Homo sapiens: one gene and its partners. The protein of the gene in region 1 interacts with the protein of each later gene in a biochemical or structural test. Each region holds a gene or a part of one and is shown in the gene's direction. Other genes may lie near its edges. The genes, in order: LDB3, CNTNAP4, PRKACA, TANC2, GHRHR, KCNJ18 and CD46.

Region 1 (3,500 bases):
GGAAATGCCTTTATTTATCCTGGACAGGTGTGGCTGGGCCTGCAACATGAGCTGCCCTTTCACCCCACCCCAGCCAGTTCTCCAGGAAGTGGAGAAGGGGGAGCAGCCCAGAGAGGGAGCAGCTCCAAAGGCCTCTGCCCTGGCAGCTGGCCAGAGGCTGGGGCTGTGGTCTGGGGTCTCACCTCTTCATGCCTCTCATGCCTCCGCCTTGGGGAAGAGGAGTATGCTTTGTTAGGCTCTGCTGCTCTCAGCTGTGTCACCTCAGAAGTCTGTTTACCTGCTCGGCCTCAGTTTTTCTCACCCTTAAAATGGGGATAGCAGGCTGGGCGCGGTGCCTCATGCCTGTAATCCCAGCACTTTGGGAGGCCGAGGGGGCAGACCACTTGAGGTCAGGAGTTTGAGACCAGCCTGGCCAACATGGTGAAACCCTGTCTCCACTAAAAATACAAAAATTAGCCAGGTGTGGTGGTACATGCTTGTGATCCCAGCTACTCAAGAGGCTGAGGCAGGAGAACAGCTTGAACCCAGGAGGCAGAGGTTGCAGTGAGCTGAGATCGCACCACTGCACTCCATTCTGGGGGCAGAGTGAGACTCCATCTTAAAAATAAATAAATAAATAAACAAATAAAATGATGCCTTCCACACCTGTGAGAGCTCTTTCTAACAGGCACTTGTGAAAACTTTCCACCTGTTGTCTACTGGGACTGGTTGTGAGACTGGTGGAGTCGGGGGCTGAGCCTGGGCCCAGGAGGGGCCTGCCTGTCTACTGGAAACCCTCTCTTCCTAGGGTCTCAGCCACCCCGCCTGCAGGCTCACCTGGAGCACCAGCTCAGAGGCCTCTTCTCTGTGGGTTTCGGTTCCAGTATTTATCAGACTCTCCCAGCTGTGGTGGGAACATGCTGAGGACAGAGGGTCTCTGGGGAGAGGAAGGGGGACAGGCTGAGACTATTCTGGGGTAGCTGTGCCGGCAATTCCTGGAATTTCGGGGCCGCTGGAGCACGCAGTGCTGTTTCTTGGGCAGCTCTTAGCAGTGCTGACAGGCCGTGCTGTTTATAGCCGCACTGAAGGTCAGGCAAGCCTCCGAGGGCTTCAGTGGGGCTGGCAGGGGCCTCCCTGCAACATCTATCAACAGGGGAAGATAAACGGCCAGAGGCTCAGAGGCTCACAGCTGGGGAATGCATTCTTAGAGGTCCCCCAGGCCAGGTCCTCCGGGCTGCTCAGAACTGCATCTAACTCTGTGAGGGATCCAAAAGGAGAGGACATGAGGCTGGCTGGGTCCTGGGGAATGAATTGGACCCTTGGAGGCCCCTGGGCCAGGACACCGTGCAAGGGCAGCTGCATAAGCAGCCCCAGGGCTCCGGGCCTACAGATATTGTGGGGTAGCCAGTGTCAGGACTGCAGGGCTGTTTGAGAAAGGCTGGGCCAGGCTCTGCTGGGGGCTAGCTCCCCAATTCCCTGAGTCTCCTTCCCTTTCTGCATGGTCCCCTCTCATCCAGAGGCTGCCCCTGACTGCAAAGACCCTCCTCTACACTGAGCCCTCCCACCCCCAAACACAGCTTTGGCACCCCTTTGGGACCAGGCTCCACCTCTGCCCAGGAACCATCCTTGGACACAAGAATGGGCCTTGCTGGGGGCCCTTGAGAGCCAGTGCCCATGAGGGCATTTTATTGGCCACACCCAAGACCCAAATGGAACTGTGGACCTGGACAGGAGGAAGAGAGGCAGGAGAGACTCAAGAGACACTTGAGGAAAGCCAGGGGAGGTGTGGTCAGCTACAGAGGGGGCAGTGACCCGTGGCTTTGGACACAGAAGGTCATTGATATGCGTGGAATAATGGGGCCAAAGGCAGACGGCTGTGTGTGAGCAGGTGGGAGGCAGCGGCAGTGGGGGCAGGATGTGTGGGTCACTTCTTGGAGGAGTCTGGAGGTGCAGAAAGGAGACATGACAGGAGCCAGTTGGAGCCACCCAGGCAGGCAGGGAGAGGCTTTTTGAGCATTGAGGGGACTCCGGCTTATTTATCGGCCAGGGTGGAGTTGGGGAGTGGGACCATGGGGAGACAGAAGGTTCCAGTGAGAGGGTGAGCATGAGCAAAGCCCCAGGGGAGGCCAGATGGGAAGGCAGCAGAGCAGGACAAGACAGTAATTTAATCATACAATGAAAATGCACTTTGTCCCACCTGCCCCAACCCAGGCAGGCAGCCTGGGAGTGTGGGGAGGGGGAGCTGCTGAAACTTGTACCCTTCCTACTTATCTGCCACCTGCCCCAGCCTCCACCCACCACATCTACACTGGCACATCTAGAAGAGGAGGAAGGCAGGGGCCTGCCTGGTTTGAACACCGGGAGTGAATGATGGCCAGAAACGTCTGCAGAGCCCAGCTGCTCTCTCTGCTGCCAGGGAACTGGGAAAATAGGAGCCAATGGCATGGGTGCGTCTGAAGCCTCACTGGTGCCTTCTTTCCCCTGGGCCTTGGACAGAAGTTTCCTCCCCTCCCCCCAACACCCAGGCCCCTCTAGGGACAGCAGGCTGGCTCAGAACTGGTCAGTCAGGGCTGGCTCCTCAAGCTCCACCCTCTGCCAGCTGTGGATCTTGTTTCCTGTGGAGCCCGGGGATGTAGCCAGCCAGCCTCACACCTTCTGGGGGTAGCAGATGGGGTCAGCACTGTGCCTCCTGGATTTGGAGTTTTCCTGAAACTCTCTCAGCTCTGCACCCTCCTTACATAATCCCCTGTTTAACGACATAATCCTCACAACAATCCCGAGAAAGGCATTGTCATTCTCTTGACACTGGAGGGCTTGGAGGCTGGCACCGAAGTCAGGGGCCCGGCCCATACTGGCACCTGTGCTCCTCCTTTGCTGCCTCCCCGCCCCCAGCCCCCAGCACTCACAAGTGGCTCTGGCACCAGCTCTCCCTGGGCTGCCCTTGGAAGTGCCCTAAGACCTTGGCCCAGCAAGGCGGAAGGGCTCCTGGGGGCAGGGAGCTGATCTTGGCCTCCAAACACCTGCAGCCTTTCTTGGGGGCTTTGGAGACAGGAGCTCGGTGCCCCACCCTGAGGCCATTCTAGGCTGCACCCAGGGTTGGGTTTCCAGGGTTTAGAGGGGCCCATTGGCGGGAGAAGACTGAAATGTGAAGTGGGAATGAAACACTCATTCAAGGGAGGCATTTAAATGCTCAAAGGCGGCTAGAAAGATTAAAAAGAAAAAACCACAGCTCCAAGGAGTTGGGTGCTTTGGGCCCTTTCTGAAACACAGAAAGGAAAGAGGAGGATGGAGTCAGACAAGACAGACGTGGAAGCATCGTGCCTGGACTGCACTCTCCATGAGCCCTGGACTCTGGGCAAGGGTCTGAGGGTGCCCCCCTCCAACCCACCCAGGCAGGCTGCTCCTGAGGTGGGGTGAAGGCATCCGATGGCTCCTGATCATCCATAGGGTCCCTGCCTCCATCCTGCCTGAAGCACCTCCCTAGAGGAGGATATCAGCACCCCCAGCCCCCACCCTGAGGG
Region 2 (3,500 bases), on another chromosome or scaffold:
TGGCAAAGTATCTGTTGAATGTAAAGAATGAGTACAAGATCCTGGTGATGAGACAGCATCATATATTCAAAGATGGAGCGCATCATATTTCATTACTTAAATATTTGACTCATTTATGAAAAACTAGTGTTTGTTGATGGTAAATCCATTAATAGTCACCTTTATGTATTATAAAGTGTTAGTTGCTCAATCTGCTTTTTTCTACCTAGTGTTGATGCTCTTAAATAATATGGCTGTCAGCAACCTGCCCCATGGGGCAATTCTTTATTTTAAAATCATTTAAAGCATTACTTTTTTTTTTATTTGAGACTGAGTCTTACTCTGTCACTCTGTCACCCAGGCTGGAGTGCAGTGGCGCAATCTCGGCTCACTGCAACCTCCACCTCCCAGGTTCAAGCGATTCTCCTGCCTCCGCCTCCCGAGTAGCTGGGCTTACAGGAGCCCACCACTATGCCCAGCTAATTGTTGTATTTTTAGTAGAGATAGTGTTTCACCATGTTGCCCAGGCTGGTCTCAAGTTCCCGACCTCAAGTAATCCACCCACCTGAGCCTCCCAAAGTGCTGGGATTACAGACGTGAGTCCCCATGCCCGGCCCTGTTACTATTGTATTTGTTGAAGATATTCAACAATGCAAGGATATTTAAGATGCATTGTTTTTTATTTGAGTTTTTCAGACATAGTTTTTCCAGAAATATAAACAATATACCATTAAATATCGATGCATTACAAAAATAGACACATTTATACATTAATCATACATTTTATTGTATGATATGTTGAATATCTGCTGGTGAAATAAAATAGTAGAATACTTTTCAGCTTCTCTCATTATCTGATATGCCTCATGGAAGAAGAAAAGAACAGTTGTAGGATTAAGTGTTCTGGACAGACTTCCATGAATATACAAACATTTATTACTCTTTCATAGTTCCTCATAGAAGACTGACATCCAATTTAAATTCATTTACTTTATTTAAAGTGTCTCTTGGCTATTGAACCTTTTCCTGAAGGAGGCTAACAAAACTTGGCTCCAGATTAAAACAACTCCTGACTTACAAAGAAAGCATGGGATGAGTTAATAAAAAGATGGCCAAATGCTCTTTTCAAGTCATCTGCTTTTCTCAGGAATAATCTATAATTTACAAATCAACTTGTGATCATAATCATATACTGCTGGTACCATTCTAGGACACTTTTCATGTTTAAAGTGATCATTAAGACCACTTCATTAAAATAACATGTCTTTGTTTTCTGGATATAAATAATTTCCAGTTCATCTTGCTAAGTGCAACCGTAAATGTTACTCTGTATGCACATATTATATTGAATATAAAATGCGTGTTATAGATAATAAAATAATGAAACAATTAAAAACTCTAAGATGTCAAGGGAGCCTAAACATTACTGTATGATCCAGTAAGTATCATCTACAACTTGTATTCAATAACCAGTCCTTTTTCAGTAATGGAGAGAAGCAGATTCAGGGATTTAAAACTAGTTATTTCTTCTGCCATCTTCTTCATTTTCATACATATGTATTTGGTGTGTGTGTGTGAGAGAGAGAGAGAGGAAGACAGAGAGAATTTGGGATATTAATCTCATACCAGGAAAATACTACACTTTTGTAAAATGATTTAAAAGAGGTTGGTTAGTTCTGTTTGTTGATCCTGTTTCCCTGTATCATGTTAATACTAGACTTAGCTTTCTTTTTATAGTACACAATAACTATGAGAAAATGTTTAGACATAAAGGAAAATTTCTGCCTCTTGATCCTGGGAAAGAAGAGAGTCTCTCAAACATCCTTCCTTCCTAACTATTTTGTAGATAGGAGGCCCTAGACTTCCTTTAAGATACACTTCATTTAAGATTGTACTATCTGCAATATAACAGATGGGAGTTAAAATTTAAATAAAAAAGTAGATGATCAAGGAGATAGAAGACAAGCCTGGTTTGTGTTTGAACTCAGATAAGAAAGCATTTAACTTTCAACTGTAAAATTATACTAGTGCATTAATTATATGTCATTTTAACAGAAAGCCATTTCAAAGATCATTTTGAAAGCTCTATTAACTTACTTTATTATTTGATTCTATTTTGGGGTTGGTTCTTCTATCTATGCAATTCATTAAAGAAACTAAAATATAATTATTGTAACTAAAACAAAATCCTTGTACTTAAAATTTTTAACAAAAATATATATATATATTATTTCAGAGATTTCTGCATATTTTGGATCTGGCTCATCCGTGATATACAATTTTCAAGAAAATTATCTTTTAAGTAAAAACTCCAGCTCCCACGCTGCTTCATTTCATGGTGATATGAAGCTGAGCAGAGAAATGATCAAATTTAGTTTCCGAACAACACGAACACCAAGCTTGCTGCTTTTTGTGAGCTCCTTTTACAAAGAATACCTTTCTGTGATCATTGCCAAAAATGGTGAGTTCTTTTTAGATGAGAGAGAGAAAATTAAATTAGAACACTAGCTCTGTAATAATATGGATCATTCTCGTGTTCTGGCTTCTCAAGCTACAAACAGAAAAATGGAGTGTGCCTGTTTTTTGTAGTCATATTTTTAGTACTATCCTATAAGTATAATCTAAAAGGATTATTTAAAATGATTAAGATGCCCTTATCTCTTTATGATTTTGATAATTTTACATATTCAATGTATAATTTTATTTATATAAAACATTTATTATATTATTGTTAGAAGCTCCTTGACTATTCCATATGGCTATCAATATTTGTTTCATAGTTCATTTTGAAATAAGGTGTCTTGTTGTATGTAACTATTTCCTGCAAATCAAAGTAAAGAAACATTAAGGGAGTGTTAATAAACCAGCATTTTGAGTAAGAATATGTCCACAAGATGACCTTTTAGTTGTACTTTTAGTTAAAAAAATCATCATGGGAAAAAAATGTTATATCCATGCAGTGTTAAGGGAATGTAGATTAGGAAATGTGTTTCCTACAGAAAACCATTTACTGCTATTTTTCTCTTTCCCACATCTAGATTAAAGGTAAAAATTTTGGAAATAACTTCTCTGGATAAGAAAAGCAAACATACAAACATGTGACTATATCATTTCAACTGATTCAAATATATCCCAAGGGTACTGTACTGAACACCAAAATAAAAATAAGATTGTTCGATAAGTGTATTTATTCTTACTGTGCATTTTGAGCTTGAAGCTTATTTATATATTAGGGCATTTTCTTTGTCAAATTGAAAGATATCCTGTGAAATAAATTAACTGACATCTCTGCAGGCAATTAAATGAGTAGTACTAATTGTGATGGTAAATTTGGCTTAAAATCATTCATCTTACCATTATTTCATTTCAAAGTCTATGACCATGACTACTTGGACATATTTCTTCTCTTTAGTAAAACTACATTTGTGTTTAATAATTTCATTAATTGTTGTATTTCCAGAGTGTGAGATATATTTTTTAAATATAGGAACAGAATATTATTGCAATATTAAGCAATAGGT
Region 3 (3,500 bases), on another chromosome or scaffold:
CTAGAAGTTCCTTAAGTCAGGCCAGGTGGTGAAGCTGGACGCGCCGGCCACACTGAGGCCAACACCTCAAGCCCCCTTGCTGTCCAGCCCCAACCCCGCGGTTCCAGAATCCCATGGGCTTCCAAAATCCCGAGCCTCACGGGAACATCTTGGCCACAGAACACAAACCGCCCTGCCAGACGACCCTCCTTTTCGCTCCTCATCCCAGTTAGTGTGAGTTTTCGCAAATTCCAAGGCAGAAAAACGAATGTATTTGGTTCCTGTTCCCAGGTGCTGTCCATAGCCTCACCCAGGATTGCCCTCACTTAGCATTTATAGCCCATGCTTCCTCTCCCAAACCCAGACTTGCCTAACTCTGAGGGTTCAGATGAGGGGTGGTGAAGCCATCTCAGCTCACATCTATGACAGGTGCAAAGTGCCCACCATCCACCAGGCCCCAGAATCCCCATCAGTCACACCCTGAGATAGTGGCACCCTCTGTAGGAGAGGTGAGGAAACAGGCTGGGAAAAGGGATGTGTCTTGGCCAAGATCACACTTTGGTGAGTAGGTAATCACCGTAGGCAATCATTGTAGGCACTGATGGCCGGAGAGAGGTTGGGGACCCCACCTCTGCCCTCAGCTCAACCACCTTGCTGGGAAGACCCGACCATCCCCCGACTTGGTCCAGCATCTCCTACACAGGAGCTTTTGGTTGGCCCGGAGTCATGACACTGTGGTGGGAGCACCCTCAGGCTCAGCCTGGGCCCCAGTCCCAGCTCTGCCACCGACTGGCTTTGAAACTTTGGGGCTGGGTACAATGGCTCACACCTGTAATGCCAGCACCTTGGGAAGTGGAGGCTTGAGGCCAGGAGTTCCAGACCAGCCTGGGCAACATAGCCAGACCCCATCTCTAAAAAAAAAAAAAAAAAAACAAACTGGCCGGGCGCGGTGGCTTACACCTGTAATCCCAGCACTGTGGGAAGCCAAGGCGGGCAGATCACCTGAGGTCGGGAGTTCGAGACCAGCCTGACTAACATGGTGAAACTCCGTCTCTACTAAAAACACACACAAAAAAAATTAGCTGGGTATAGTGGTGGGCGCCTGTAATCCCAGCTACTTGGGAGGCTGAGGCAGGAGAATCACTTGAACCCAGGAGGCGGAGGTTGCAGTGAGCCAAGATCACACCATTGTACTCCAGCCTGGGCAACAGGGCAGGACTCTGTCTCAAAAAAAAAAAAAAAAAAAAAAAACTAAAAATTAGCTGGGCGTGATGGTGCACCCCTGTGTTCCCAGCTCATCGGGAGGGTGAGGCAGGAGGATCGCTTGAGCCCAGAAGTGAGCTGTGAGCTGTGATTGCATCACTGCAGTCTAGCCTGGGTCACAGAGCCAGACCCTGTCTTTTAAAAAAATTCAGGCAAGTGGGGTGCCCCAGCTGGACACATAGCATCACTAAAAGAGAAAGATGAAGGCCAGGCGCGGTGGCTCACACCTATAATCCCAGCATTTTGGGAGGCCAAGGCAGGTGGATCACGAGGTCAGGAGTTCAAGACCAGCCTGGCTAACATGGTGAAACCCTGTCTCTACTAAAAATACAAAAATTAGCTGGGCGTGGTGGCGGGTGCCTGTAATCCCAGCTACTCGGGAGGCTGAGGCAGAGAACTGCTTGAACCCGGGAGACAGAGGTTGTAGTGAGCCGAGATTGCGCCACTGCACTTCAGCCTGGGTGACAGAGCAAGACTCTGTCTCAAAAAAAGGGAAAGATGAGGCATCTGCCACCGGACCAAAAGAAACTGCCAAGAAAATGGCCCAGAGTTGGCCGGGTGTGGTGGCTCACGCCTGTAATCCCAGCACTTTGGGAGGCCGAGGCGGGCGGATCACGAGGTCAGGAGTTTAAGACCAGCCTGACCAACATGGTGAAACCCCGTCTCTACTAAAAATACAAAAATTAGCCGGATATGGTGGCACACACCTGTAATCCCAGCTACTCAGGAGTCTGAGGCAGGAGAATCACTTGAAACCGGGAGGCAGAGGTTGCAGTGAGCTGAGATTGTGCCACTGCACTCCAGCCTGGGCAACAGAGCAAGACTCCATCTCAAAAAAAAAAAAGAAAAAAAGAAAAAAAAATGTCCCAGAGTGGGAAAAAAAAGAAAGAAAAAAACACAGAAGATCCCACAGGAGAAGATGCACATGACTCCCTTCTTTGTAGCATTTTCTAGTTCCCCCGCACCGTCAGTGGTATTATCTCCCTCGTGCAGCCCTGGCATATCTGCCCCACATCTGAGAGGCATGCGCAGGCCCAGAGAGGTTAAGGGCCATGGCCAAGGTCACACAGCGTGTAAGAGGCACAGCAGGAACAAGAAGTCGTTTCTTGCAACTATAACTCCAGTGATGACTTGCATACAAGGCGTGGGCTCAGAGGGTTTGGGGAAAACTTTCAAGAAGAGTTGAGCTGGGCTTTAAAGAACGGAAGAGCCTTAGCTATGCAGAAAGAGAGGAGAGAAAAAGTTTGTCATAAGCAAGAATATTTCAGAAGTCTCCAGACCCCAGCAGAGATGCCTTAAGCAGCAGCAGCAGCAGCTGAGAATGCAAGTTCTAGAGTCCAGTAGACCTGAGATGGAATTGCCCCATCACACACCTCAATGTGACCTAGGAAGAGCTGTTTAACCCAAGCCTCAGTTTCCCCTTCTCTGAAATGGAAATCATCATAGCACTTGCCTTAGAGCAATGGTTCTTAAAAGGGACCCCTTTCCAGCAGCACCATTGCTGGGGAATTTGTTAGAAATGCAGATTCTTGGGCCAGGCACGGTGGCTCACACCTGTAATCCCAACACTTTGGGAGGCCAAGGCAGGTGGATCACCTAAGGTCAAGAGTTCAAGACCAGCCTGACCAATATGGTGAAACCCCGTCTCTACTAAAAATACAAAAATTAGCCAGGTGTCTTGGCGTGAGCCTGTAATCCCAGCTACTCAGGAGGCTGAGACAGGAGAATTCCTTGAACCCAGGAGGCGGAGGTTGCAGTGAGCCCAGATCGCACCACTGCACTCCAGCCTGGGCTACAGAGTGAGGCTATTTTTTTTTTTTTTTTTTTTTTTTTTTCAAAAAAAGAAATGCAGATTCTTGCTGGGTGTGGTGGCTCACGCCTATAATCCTAGCACTTTGGGAGGCCAAAGCAGGAGGATCGCTTGAGCCTAGAAGTTCAAGACCAGCCTGGGCAACGTAGTGAGACCCTGTCTCTACAAAAACTTCTTAAAATAACTAACTCTTGAATTTTTAAAGTTTTTAAAGAAATGCAGATTCTCAGGCCACAGTATCAGACTTCCTAAATTGGAAACTGTAGGGTAGGCTCAAGGAGCTGTTTTACAAGATGCTGGCAGGCACTCTGCTTTGGAGGCCCACACCCAGTAGGACCGTTGGATGGAGAAAGAAGCATCATGGGCTTCCCAAGTTCCAGACCAGCTTCCCACCCTGTCCTTGTACCCCTTCCTCCAGGTGCGCTTCCCTTCCCACTTCAGCTCTGAC
Region 4 (3,500 bases), on another chromosome or scaffold:
GCCCAGCGGCCCTACCAGATGCCTCAGCTCCCTGTGGCAGTTCCCCAGCAAGGGCTCAGGCTACAGCCTGCCAAGGCCCAGATTGTGAGAAGTAACCAGCCCAGCCCAGCCGTCCATTCAAGCACCGTCATCCCCACAGGAGCCTATGGCCAAGTAGCCCATTCAATGGCCAGTAAATACCAGTCTTCACAAGGAGACATAGGAGTCAGCCAGAGCCGGTTGGTTTATCAAGGGTCAATTGGGGGAATCGTAGGGGATGGAAGGCCGGTGCAGCATGTCCAAGCCAGCCTGAGTGCAGGCGCCATCTGTCAGCATGGAGGATTGACCAAAGAGGATCTTCCACAGCGACCTTCCTCAGCATACCGAGGTGGCGTGAGATACAGCCAGACACCACAGATCGGACGCAGCCAGTCAGCATCCTATTACCCAGTCTGTCACTCAAAACTAGATCTGGAGCGCTCCTCCAGCCAACTAGGTTCCCCTGATGTGTCGCATTTAATCAGAAGACCTATCAGTGTCAACCCTAACGAAATCAAACCGCACCCGCCAACTCCCAGGCCGTTGCTGCATTCCCAAAGTGTAGGCCTTCGCTTCTCTCCATCTAGCAATAGTATCTCCTCCACCTCCAACCTAACTCCGACCTTCCGGCCATCTTCTTCCATCCAGCAAATGGAGATCCCACTGAAACCTGCATATGAGAGGTCATGTGACGAGCTGTCGCCAGTGTCTCCAACTCAAGGAGGTTACCCCAGTGAGCCCACCCGATCCAGGACCACACCATTCATGGGGATCATAGATAAAACAGCACGGACTCAGCAGTACCCCCACCTCCACCAGCAGAATCGGACCTGGGCAGTGTCATCTGTGGACACCGTCCTCAGTCCCACGTCTCCAGGCAACCTGCCTCAGCCTGAGTCCTTCAGTCCACCATCATCCATCAGCAACATTGCCTTTTATAACAAAACCAACAATGCACAGAATGGCCATTTGCTGGAGGACGATTATTACAGCCCCCATGGGATGCTGGCTAACGGGTCTCGTGGAGACCTCTTGGAGCGAGTCAGCCAGGCCTCCTCCTATCCCGACGTGAAGGTAGCTCGGACTCTACCTGTGGCTCAGGCATACCAGGACAACCTGTACAGGCAGCTGTCCCGAGACTCTCGGCAAGGGCAGACATCCCCTATCAAACCAAAGAGACCGTTCGTGGAGTCTAATGTTTAAAAGACGTTTTGTTGGAGTGAGACCCATATGTTTTCACTGCACATTTTCAGGCTTGGTTTCCACATTCGAGGTAGTTCTCTGGCTTAATTTCTCATGTAGTTTCTGTGTGGTGTTCAGAGGTGGCAGCCCACATGCTGAAATCCTTTGCATGCAGCCGACTGGGAAGCGGCCTCCCGGGAGCCAGGACTTCAGTTTCTCTTGTCTGTGCCCAGCCACATGCTCTCTCCCTCTCTTCAGATGCCAACGAGGAGATTTTCGTGCTGTGTGCTTTAACCCAGGGAGATCAGACACACTGGTCAGCTTTTTCCAGGAGACAATCGCTTTCACTGATGTTCTTGTTGTGTAATTGTCTTTTTCCTTTTTTAAAAAATAAGGTGTTCTTGTTCGTTTTCTTCTAGAAACTTTAGAAAGAGTGCGATGCCCCTTTGCCTTTGCATCCTTAGCCAGTGTCACCCACACAGCCAGCCGCAGCGCATTCTCATGCTGTGGCCCCTCCCCAGACCGCCAGCGCCCTGCAGCCACCAGGTCTGCAGTGTGCATTAGGATTATTGCTGGTCTTCCTAGGGGGTAAAAGGATCAGAGAGAGAAGAATTAAGTGCTAAATTGGAAGAAAACCCCAATATAATTATGTAAAATGTCACTACATTGATTTTCCAAGAGGCATTGTAGGAACATGTCAAAAACAGCCAGCCCTTTAAATATTGCAGTCAGCCAAGGAAATTAGATGAGAATTGTGGCTATTAAGAGAATTCACTGAGAGTTATTCTCTAGATTTTTAGCCGACAATTAACCACTAAAAGCTGCTGCTTTTCCAGGGTGGGGGAGGGAATGAATACATAGAAAAACAAAAAAGATTGTTCTGGATTCTCAGTGAAAGGCTATAGGAAGTCTGTTCTGGAGACATCTACTTTTTAGATCCTGATACATCACTGAGTGTCATACTCCACTAAAAGGAAACTCTAACCGAAGGCTGGCTGGTGTGACAATCCCGTTAGTTGGATCTTCACCTACAGCCAGATTTTGTTCTAGTGGCCCTCTTCCTGTAAACCCAGATGGTGTCATACAGAAATTGTTTCTTTCAGAAGCAGATTGGAATCTCTTGGGACCATGAGACTGAGTCCCAATATTTCCACCCAGGGTCATGCCCGTTGTTGTCTACTTCCATTTTGAGATCTATAGTTTGATTATCTATTATTACAGGAACTGTTTCTTTTCTTTTTCTAGGAGTGTTTATGAGAGTGTGATATTTTAAAGTCAGACGCAGCAAAAACTGTTTCAGGGTGAAGAAAGACCCCTTTCAGCCCTGTTTTGCAGCCCTGGGTGGGGGCATGAGATAGACAGCAAGCTTCTGATCTTGAAGCTTGTCTAGAAGACACATCTTCTAGGTCTCGTGGTCATTTGGTAGGCTGACCTTTGAGTGAGCGAGGCCACTATTGAGTGGATAGCAAGAACATTGGAACCAAAGCCTCGGCACAGGCCTGGCACTGGCTGTACATCAGCTCTTACAACTAAACAACTCAACTAAGCAACTGAAACGAAACAAAGGAGCATTCGTTCTCTGTTGTTAGGAATCATTCTGCTCTGTTAGGGAAGGGCTGCAGGAAGGGCAGTTTCCTGAATAAAAATCTGGCTGCGACCAGTCCCATGTGTCTGGTAAGTAAGTAAGTAAGTAAGTGCCCTTTGAAGGGATCATTAAGACACAGGGAGCATGAACCTGAGATCAGAAGCATTTCTTTACTAATTTAGATTCTGCGAAATAGACGGACCTCTCCACCCCCAAACCTAAAACAGGCCAGGACTTGTCTCTGTGCTGAAAGCAAATAGCAAGACTAACTCAAGCCCCAGCCTCTTTCCACACTCCCTGATACCTAAGGACTGCTTTCTCAGCTAGACCAGGGTGGGCATCAGCGACGCCTTCTCAGCTAGACCAGGGTAGGCATCAGCGTCCTCTCTCCATCTCTATACCCCTCTCTCTCACATCAGGAAGATGAAATGTGTAGCTCTAGCGGCAACCTCTAGCCAGGAGCCCAGTGGCCTCTCAGATTGCTTTTTGGCCAGGTCTCAGCACTGCTGGCATCTTTACATCTTACTCCTTAAAACCGCCTCTCGCTGAGGAGCCACTGCATTTTGAAGAATTTCTCAGTGTCTGTCAGGAAAGTGCTCCTGCTCATTTGGAACGCCACACACCACCCGCACTCACCTGTCCAGGCGAATGAGCAGGTCCTGTAGCTTTACAAATATGCCGCTGATGCCGCTTCTCCCCAGGGTCTCTCAGTTTT
Region 5 (3,038 bases), on another chromosome or scaffold:
CTTACTGATCCCCTATTATGTGCCAAGTGTTGTGCTCATTCACAAGGGATGCAGAAATAAAGTCAGAGAAATGGGGCCAACAGTACAGCCCTGGCAGGCTTGCTATGACAATTCTATGACAATATGCCTGGCACATAGTAAGTAATGAATGCATTTAAATTCCCCTTTCAATCAAACCTGGCCCAAGCCATAGCCTGGGGATGAGTAGGGAAAAGGTAGCAGAAAGACGGTGGACACCTTCAGGCCAGGCCAAAGGGTTCTGATGGGGTCTTTCTTCTTTGGACCCACAGGGCTTCATTGTTGCCATCCTCTACTGCTTCCTCAACCAAGAGGTGTGTGATTTTTGAGGCTATCCCTCATGGAGTCCCCCTCCCACCAGACCTAAGGCCCCTCCTCCTCTCTCCCACTCAGGCCCTGTAAACCCCAGCTCAGGCCACACCTTCACTCTTGTGAGCTTTTGTGGTAGTCTGTCCTGAGCTTCTGGATCAAGCTGAACCGGAATGTTTCCTGTAAACATCTCTTATCCATCCTTCCTCTGAGCTGGGCCAAGTTCTACTAGCTACTCTTCAGGAGGTGGAGGAGGCCTTTCAGGGATAAGGAGGGGGATTAGGGTAGGGAGTCAGAAGGAATCCCCCAATTCTGTGTTCCTAAAATTGAACAAAAAGGAGAGTTGGGGAGGGGGTACGCCAGCTGAGGGAGAGACAATCAGAGAGAACAGATAGAGGAGCCAAGAAAGTCAGAGGTAAACATACAGGGAACTAGGAAAATAATCAGATGCAGAGACAAAGAGGAAGATCTGGAGCCCAAGAAACAGAGAGAGCACCTAAAGAAAACAGACACACAAAGAGAGTGGACAGAAGGGGAGATAGACATGAAAAGACAGAACAGATGGTGCTGCTGCACATGTGGAAACGTGGGGACACGACAGAGACTGACGCAAAGTGAATTCCACCCAGGAGACACTGAATTTCCCCCTTAGGACAGTCCTGCTCTGGGGAGAGAGGCGGGGGAGAATTGATCTCAATGCCCCGGACTCCCAAGTTCCACCTTTGTGCACCTGCAGGGCCATGCGCTCCCTCTGCTGGCCATGGATTTGCCATGGGCTCTGCATTCTGTGAGAGTTGGCTGCAGATGCCCTGTCCCCTTCGCTGTGGAGTTTTGCTCCCATCTCATCTGCCACCTCTGTCCCTTACTGCTCCTTCCACTCTCCCTCTCTTTATTCCTCACCTGACCTCTCTAAGTCCCATGCAGCCTTATCTGGTGTCTGGCTGTAGCAGACCATGGGCCCTGGGGGTCCTGGGAGGGGCAAGAAGCATCCCAGGCTGAGGCTGGTGGGGTGTGGAAAAAGTGTTTCCACAGAGAGGTGTGAAGGGAGCTGTCTTGGGAAGCAGTGCCGGAGACCAGGTGGTTACATACCTCTGGTGACAGTGAGCTTACTACATCCCAATAGCTCTTTCTGTTGTCAGGCAGCTGTGGAAAGATCATCTTTATGTTGAACAGATATCTGATTCCTTTTATCTTTCACCACAACCCCAGTTCGGCTCTACTGCATGAGGCACATTCTCTCAGCACCCTATGCCCCTGAAAGCCCCTTGGAGATGTGAAGATACAGACAGCACCCCCACCCCCCAATCCCACCGTTCCATCTTGCCCCAGGCTACTTTTCTTTTACTTACTTTCAGTTTCCTCAACTGCAACCCCTCAGACAGAGTTCTGAATCCTCTCTCCCTTCAGGTCATGTCCTCTGGACAGATTTCCAGTGGCCAGAGTTGAGCTCACAAAATTGAATCCCAGAGCAAGGAGTGGTCTAAGTGATTAAGAGAGAACAGGGTGGTTATTTGGCCAGGAACTCAAGAAAGCACCTATAAATGTCTTTAACTGGGCTCAGACAAAGGCAGGGCTAAAAGGCAGAGAAAGGAGCTAAAAGAATGGTGAGAAATACTCACAGGAAGGAAAAAGTAGTATCCTCCAGAGGTAGTACTTAGCAGTACCTGTTGCCAAGCATGACTTTTCCTGCCCCATGTCTCTGTTTCTCTTACACGGCCTCTCCCTGCACCTTAGTCTCATTGGGGTTGAGTAGCAAAGCCACAGGGGGACCTTCCTAACGTCCTCTTCCTTGTCCCTGGAGGTGAGGACTGAGATCTCACGGAAGTGGCATGGCCATGACCCTGAGCTTCTGCCAGCCTGGAGGACCCGTGCTAAGTGGACCACGCCTTCCCGCTCGGCGGCAAAGGTGCTGACATCTATGTGCTAGGCTGCCTCATCACGCCACTGGAGTCCACACTTGAATTTGGGCAGCTACCACGGGTCTGCCATGCTCTGGAGGAGCAAGGGGGCCACATCCCCACCCCAGCTGTTACCCAGCCCGGGGCAGGTGCAGCCCTTCCTCCCTGTCTCTGCATCTGACTCTCTTTTGAGGTCCCTGTATGTCTACCTCTGACTTCTGTGGTCCCTCTGTGTCTGCTCTCATCCATTCCTCTTACTGGGGCCTGGGGCTCTAGCCCAAGGCTCAGAGGAGCCAATAAACCTGTAAATGAATAGACGCATGTTTGAGTGAGTAAATGGGCCTTTAAAGGGGAGCGCACCTGCGTTCTTTATTTAGACGTCTGGTGCTGAGTTGCGTTCATCATTCCTCAGTTCATGCTACATTATGATTATTTATCTGTGCAAGGGGCCTCTTGTTTTATTTATTCTTAAAATGTACTCTCTTTTGCCTTCACCACTCCCATTCGCCTCCTCTCACAGGCAAAGAGAGCATGCTTAATGTGAATACTTGTGTTTCTGTGTGTCTTGCAAAATACGTGGTGTTTTGTGTGTCTGTACTTTAATTTACATAAATGCTGTTGGTCATATGCCTCATCCTGCTTCTAACGTTTCCCCCTCAGCACTGTGCTTTTAAGAGATGCTCCCGGGGTGGACGCGGTGGCTCATGCCTGTAATCCCAGCACTTTGGGAGGCTGAGGAAGGCAGATCACCTGAGGTCAGGAGTTCGAGACCAGCCTGGCCAACATAGCGAAACGCTGTCTCTACTAAAAATG
Region 6 (2,590 bases), on another chromosome or scaffold:
GTTTTTGGCTGGAGCTGCTGGGGGCCCGAAGGGGGTGGCCACTCGCACTGGGAAGGCGGAGTGGGGAGCTGGCTTAGGCAAGACCAGAGCATGATTGTGGGTCAATCAGGGTGGAAGCGTCCTCCAGTCACGTCTGGGGGCCCTGGGATGGGGGTAGAGGAGCCTGGAGCCACCAGCCCAGCCAGACATGCTGTCCTCTCTGTTCCAGGAGCCGCCCTGCCTGGAGCTAGCCTGGGGGTGAGCCAGGGTCCCCCAACCCCCGGGATGACCGCGGCCAGCCGGGCCAACCCCTACAGCATCGTGTCATTGGAGGAGGACGGGCTGCACCTGGTCACCATGTCGGGCGCCAACGGCTTCGGCAACGGCAAGGTGCACACGCGGCGCAGGTGCCGCAACCGCTTCGTCAAGAAGAATGGCCAGTGCAACATTGCGTTCGCCAACATGGACGAGAAGTCACAGCGCTACCTGGCTGACATGTTCACCACCTGTGTGGACATCCGCTGGCGCTACATGCTGCTCATCTTCTCGCTGGCCTTCCTTGCCTCCTGGCTGCTGTTCGGCGTCATCTTCTGGGTCATCGCGGTGGCACACGGTGACCTGGAGCCGGCTGAGGGCCACGGCCGCACACCCTGTGTGATGCAGGTGCACGGCTTCATGGCGGCCTTCCTCTTCTCCATCGAGACGCAGACCACCATCGGCTACGGGCTGCGCTGTGTGACGGAGGAGTGCCTGGTGGCCGTCTTCATGGTGGTGGCCCAGTCCATCGTGGGCTGCATCATCGACTCCTTCATGATTGGTGCCATCATGGCCAAGATGGCAAGGCCCAAGAAGCGGGCACAGACGCTGCTGTTCAGCCACAACGCCGTGGTGGCCCTGCGTGACGGCAAGCTCTGCCTCATGTGGCGTGTGGGCAACCTGCGCAAGAGCCACATTGTGGAGGCCCATGTGCGCGCGCAGCTCATCAAGCCGCGGGTCACCGAGGAGGGCGAGTACATCCCGCTGGACCAGATCGACATCGATGTGGGCTTCGACAAGGGCCTGGACCGCATCTTTCTGGTGTCGCCCATCACCATCTTGCATGAAATTGACGAGGCCAGCCCGCTCTTCGGCATCAGCCGGCAGGACCTGGAGACGGACGACTTTGAGATCGTGGTCATCCTGGAAGGCATGGTGGAGGCCACAGCCATGACCACCCAGGCCCGCAGCTCCTACCTGGCCAATGAGATCCTGTGGGGTCACCGCTTTGAGCCCGTGCTCTTCGAGGAGAAGAACCAGTACAAGATTGACTACTCGCACTTCCACAAGACCTATGAGGTGCCCTCTACGCCCCGCTGCAGTGCGAAGGATCTGGTAGAGAACAAGTTCCTGCTGCCCAGTGCCAACTCCTTCTGCTATGAGAACGAGCTGGCCTTCCTGAGCCGTGACGAGGAGGATGAGGCGGACGGAGACCAGGACGGCCGAAGCCGGGATGGCCTCAGCCCCCAGGCCAGGCATGACTTTGACAGACTCCAGGCTGGCGGCGGGGTCCTGGAGCAGCGGCCCTACAGACGGGGGTCAGAGATCTGAGCCAACCTTGGCCGACATGCAGCATCCACCCCTGGCCGGGGAGAGGCCCCGCGGTCGCTCAGGGGCCCTGGGTTTGAGCAGAACGGGCCCAGTGCCCTGGGTTGCAGACTCAGTAGCGTTTTAGTCGTTTTATGTTTCTTTGCAAAGGCCTCAGAAGGTTGGCCGGAGAGGGGGCAGCCAGAGCGGCAGCCCCCGGCCTCAGAGGCTATCACAGGCTCAGGGCAAAGAAGTGGCCTCCTGGGGGGCCAGGCCACGGGGGCCAGGGCTTCTGCCTGAAGATGGAGCTGCAGCCTGCGGGGAAGCAGCCCAGCTCGATGGTGGGCCCAGCCTCTGCTGTCCAAGGCTGGCTAGCTGCGGTGCTCCTTGCTGGTTTTTAACTTGGGGAGAAACACCGGGTTTCAGCTTTCTCGACCTTAGCTTGGGTGAGACTGTTTACAAAAAAAAAAAAAACCATGCAATTGGAGAAAAAAATTTTAATTCATAGGGGGCAAAAAGAACAATTAGAATTCCATGGGTCTGCCAGGATGCAGCAGCTGGCTGGAGGCTCCAGAGGGTTCCCCGAGGTGGGACCGGCCTCTCCCCGTGTATGTGGGCACTGCAGTCCCTGGGCAAGCAGGGTGCTCTGGGGCCGCACTTTGTCGAGCTCACGAGCCAGCTAGGCTCTGTTTGTGATAGAAAAATCAAGACCATGTTAATGATTGTAATAAAAGCTTTCTGCTGTCTTTGGGGTGCTGGGTGGGTCTGGGAAGAAAGTGGTTTGAGCTTTTAGAGTTTGCCTTTGTACCTTAGAGATGTGTCTCAGGGCCAGGCATGGGACCTGCCATCGAGGGTTCCTCCTCCCACCCTCGATTTTCCTGTTTTGCTTCTTTCTCCATTTCTGTCCAGGCCTCCGCCCAATTCCACAGTGAGGGGTGGTTAGGAGCCATAGGCCAGGATGCCTCCTTGGGAAGGGAAGTCAGGATCCCAGGCTAGGAGGAAGCTGGCAGCCCCGTCCCCACTGGGCCCACAGTGTGAGTCGTGCGTT
Region 7 (3,500 bases), on another chromosome or scaffold:
CTCTTAATGACCTAGTCATTTCTTAAAGGCCCCACCACCTCTCAATGCTGTTACACTGGCAATTAAATTTCAATATGAGTTTTGGTAGAGACAAACCAGATTCAAACAATAGCAGTAACACACCATAATATAGAAAAAGTAAGTGAGTCTTGGAGGAAAAATCAGCTGTGACTATGTAAGGCAACTGACAGTTTTTAAAATTTGGTCAAGTAGAAATATTGGAATATTCAGTTGACACATACTGCTTGCTAGGCACACCGAGGGATACCAAAACTTTAAGACAGTGACCTTCCTAAAAGAAGTTCTAACCTTATTGAGAAATAATATATACTGAGAGCAATAAAAGCAAAATACTAAATGAGAAATACCAAATAAGTAGAATTATTCATGATAATTACTCTAAGAGTCCAGAAGGAGGAGAGATTCCTGTGAATTTAAATCAGGGAAGATTTCATTGAGTATAGGGGTATACTTAATGAAAGTATTCTTATACTCAGTGAGCTATTCCTAGAAATACACTCTGTTCTAAATAATATTAATAGAAGCTAAAACTCATGTAGCACTATCTATGTGCCAAATGCTAACTTATCTAATCCCCTAAACAACCCCATGTACTGTTATCCCCTTTTAATCAATTAGGAAGCTGAGTGAAGGAACTTTAAGTGACTTACCCAAGCTCAAGAAACTAGATAAGTTGAGAAGCAGGGACTTGAATCTATCCATTCCAGCTCTAGGGCCTGTTCTCTCTACACAGTCCTTGTCCTTACTGTGCAAAGTGGTGTGAGAAAAGGCACAGAAATGAATGTGTAATGTGATTGCAGGAGGCAGCAAAGAGGCTGGGTGGAAAGGCACAGCAGATTTATTTAGACATCTTTGCTCTTGGCCAATATATATTCAAATGGGGAAACTCTATTTGATTAAATTGCAGATTTATTTAGCACTTTCGTTATATAGTATGTTGTTTAAGAAACCACCCCCTCAAACTACTGTAGTGTAGAAAAGAAACCATATAAAAAATTCCTTCATTATTATGTGTGTCTTATTAATTGCTATACAAAACAGTAACCCTTTCTTTTCTCATTTAGTTATTACTTAATTGGTGAAGAAATTCTATATTGTGAACTTAAAGGATCAGTAGCAATTTGGAGCGGTAAGCCCCCAATATGTGAAAGTAAGTAAATTCTTTTTTTTTAAATTTAGACCAGTAGTCCTCAAAGATTTTTGCCTCCTTTACACCCTTTACACTTTAAGATTAACAAAGATCCCAAAGAGGTTTCTTTTATGTGGGTTATATCTATTGGTATTTATCATATTGGAATTCAAACGGAGAGGTTTTTAAATAATTATTGATTCTTTTTGGTTTTGTTTGTTTTTCCTAAGACACGGTCTCAGGCTATTTCCCAGGCTGGGGTGCAGTGGCACAATCTCAGCTCATTGCAGCCTCAGCCTCTCCAGTAGCTGGGGCTTCAGGCATGTGCCACTATGCCTGGCTTTTTGTAATTTTTGAAGAGACGGGGTTTTGCCATGATGCCCAGGCTGGTCTTGAAATCCCATGCTCAAGCAGTCTGCCCCCGTGGGCCTCCCAAAGTGCTGGGATTACAAATGTGAGCCACCCCACCTGGCCTGATTAATTTGTAAGAATAAATGCAATACAAATTAACATATGTAACATAATTTTTATGAAAAATAATAATTTTCCAAATCAAAATAAAATTAGTGAGAATAGTGGCATTGTTCACATTTTTTGCATATCTCTTCAACATCTGGCTTAAAGCAAGATTGTATTTGGCCTGTTGTGTTATCACACAATATGTAGCCTTTGGAAAAATATCACTATATTCTTATTAGGATCAGAGTGAAAAAAGACAATAATATTTTGGTGGTATTGTGAATCACCAATTTAGAAAATGGATATATTTATAAATTGCAAAGGATTTCTTAACTAGCACCGAGTTAAGCATATTTTCTCATTAATTGTCAGCATTTCTTGTGATGACTAGAACAGAACTTAGCATGGCCTTCCAAATAAATACAGGCGTATTAGGCCGTTTTCGTATTGCTCTAAAGAAATACCTGAGACTGGGTAATTTATAAAGAAAAGAAGTTTAATTGGCTCATGTTTCTACAAGCTGTACAGGAAGCATGGTGCTGGCATCTGCTGGGGGTTTGGGTAGGCCTCGGGAAACTTAACAACCATTGGGAAAGACAGAAGGAGAGCAAGGTGTCTCACATGGCAGGAGCAGGAGGAGCAAGGTGGGGAGGACGGGAGGTGTTGCGCACTTTTAAATAACCAGATCTCCCAAGCACTCAGTATCACGAGAACAGCACCAAGGGGACGGTGCTAAACCATTCATGAGAAATCCACCCCCATGATTCAGACCCCTCCCACCAGGCCCCACCTCCAACATTGTGGACTACAATTTGACATGCGATTTGGTGGGGACACAGATCCAAACCATATCAATAGGTATTTACACTTTAAGAAAATGAGATTTGTTCTGAAAGTTAGTTACTACATTAATGGTTTGAATTTGGGATGATATATTTGCTCATAGAAACCTTCTTTTAAATCCATATTGAATTCACAAACAGCTTGTAGAAACCCTATATTGACAAATTTATTGAAGACACAGAAATTTTACTAATGCTGTCTTAATCTTTTACATTTCCTTTCCTCTTTTTCTTCATTTTTAAGAGGTTTTGTGTACACCACCTCCAAAAATAAAAAATGGAAAACACACCTTTAGTGAAGTAGAAGTATTTGAGTATCTTGATGCAGTAACTTATAGTTGTGATCCTGCACCTGGACCAGATCCATTTTCACTTATTGGAGAGAGCACGATTTATTGTGGTGACAATTCAGTGTGGAGTCGTGCTGCTCCAGAGTGTAAAGGTAGTGTTTCAATTTATTTCCTTCTTCATTTGTAAATACTATGGAAACATTTTGTAAATAGTTTCATCTACAGATAAACAAAGCAGGTGTATGTGCTTCCTCCTCCTGTATAATTGGTTTCTAATTTATTTTAATTCAGGTCAATTCAAGTCAAAAAATAGTTCTAGCTAGAGTTCCCTATTTCTCACCCCTACATGTTCTTGGCATTTCATTTTATACAGTGTGAACTACTGTGTACCTGCATGAGTTAGAAGTTTTTGTTTGAAAGAACCAAAAAAAAAAAATACACACTGGCTTAAAGAAAGTTTCATCTTGTATTACAAGAAATCTAAGAGTTCTGGCTATGGTAGTGGTAAACTGTGACAGACTAATCGTCTCACAAATAAAAATGATAAACTCTGGATAAAAAAAATTTTTTTTTTAAAGACCAAATGTTTAAGGCACTCTGGAGTGACCAAAAGTATGAAGACCATGTAGGGGACTTGCCCATTTAAAGAAAGAAATCACTGAATAACAGTGATTTAAAAGTATATACTCCCCAAGTACACATGAAACATTCTCCAAAGTAGACCATATTCTAGACAATAAGACAACTTTTAACAAACTT

The links.
Region 2: the proteins of LDB3 (region 1) and CNTNAP4 interact in a test that uses a peptide from one of them, tested with the Homo sapiens proteins (one large-scale study listed by IntAct).
Region 3: the proteins of LDB3 (region 1) and PRKACA interact in a test that uses a peptide from one of them, tested with the Homo sapiens proteins (one large-scale study listed by IntAct).
Region 4: the proteins of LDB3 (region 1) and TANC2 interact in a test that uses a peptide from one of them, tested with the Homo sapiens proteins (one large-scale study listed by IntAct).
Region 5: the proteins of LDB3 (region 1) and GHRHR interact in a test that uses a peptide from one of them, tested with the Homo sapiens proteins (one large-scale study listed by IntAct).
Region 6: the proteins of LDB3 (region 1) and KCNJ18 interact in a test that uses a peptide from one of them, tested with the Homo sapiens proteins (one large-scale study listed by IntAct).
Region 7: the proteins of LDB3 (region 1) and CD46 interact in a test that uses a peptide from one of them, tested with the Homo sapiens proteins (one large-scale study listed by IntAct).

What each region holds. Positions count from the first base shown.
Region 1 is NC_000010.11:86,671,511-86,675,010, forward strand, and holds part of LDB3 (LIM domain-binding protein 3), read left to right. Parts: intron 1-3,500. UniProt on the Homo sapiens protein: May function as an adapter in striated muscle to couple protein kinase C-mediated signaling via its LIM domains to the cytoskeleton.
Region 2 is NC_000016.10:76,535,901-76,539,400, forward strand, and holds part of CNTNAP4 (contactin-associated protein-like 4 isoform 1 precursor), read left to right. Parts: intron 1-2,215; coding exon 2,216-2,440; intron 2,441-3,500. UniProt on the Homo sapiens protein: Presynaptic protein involved in both dopaminergic synaptic transmission and GABAergic system, thereby participating in the structural maturation of inhibitory interneuron synapses.
Region 3 is NC_000019.10:14,093,763-14,097,262, reverse strand, and holds part of PRKACA (cAMP-dependent protein kinase catalytic subunit alpha), read left to right. Parts: intron 1-3,470; coding exon 3,471-3,500.
Region 4 is NC_000017.11:63,420,735-63,424,234, forward strand, and holds part of TANC2 (protein TANC2), read left to right. Parts: coding exon 1-1,221; 3' UTR 1,222-3,500. UniProt on the Homo sapiens protein: Scaffolding protein in the dendritic spines which acts as immobile postsynaptic posts able to recruit KIF1A-driven dense core vesicles to dendritic spines.
Region 5 is NC_000007.14:30,976,991-30,980,028, forward strand, and holds the end of GHRHR (growth hormone-releasing hormone receptor precursor), read left to right. Parts: intron 1-290; coding exon 291-332; intron 333-2,128; coding exon 2,129-2,254; 3' UTR 2,255-2,538; downstream 2,539-3,038.
Region 6 is NC_000017.11:21,702,523-21,705,112, forward strand, and holds the end of KCNJ18 (inward rectifier potassium channel 18), read left to right. Parts: intron 1-208; coding exon of another isoform or gene 209-264; coding exon 265-1,566; 3' UTR 1,567-2,090; downstream 2,091-2,590. UniProt on the Homo sapiens protein: Inward rectifier potassium channels are characterized by a greater tendency to allow potassium to flow into the cell rather than out of it.
Region 7 is NC_000001.11:207,758,554-207,762,053, forward strand, and holds part of CD46 (membrane cofactor protein isoform 3 precursor), read left to right. Parts: intron 1-1,085; coding exon 1,086-1,171; intron 1,172-2,695; coding exon 2,696-2,893; intron 2,894-3,500. UniProt on the Homo sapiens protein: Acts as a cofactor for complement factor I, a serine protease which protects autologous cells against complement-mediated injury by cleaving C3b and C4b deposited on host tissue.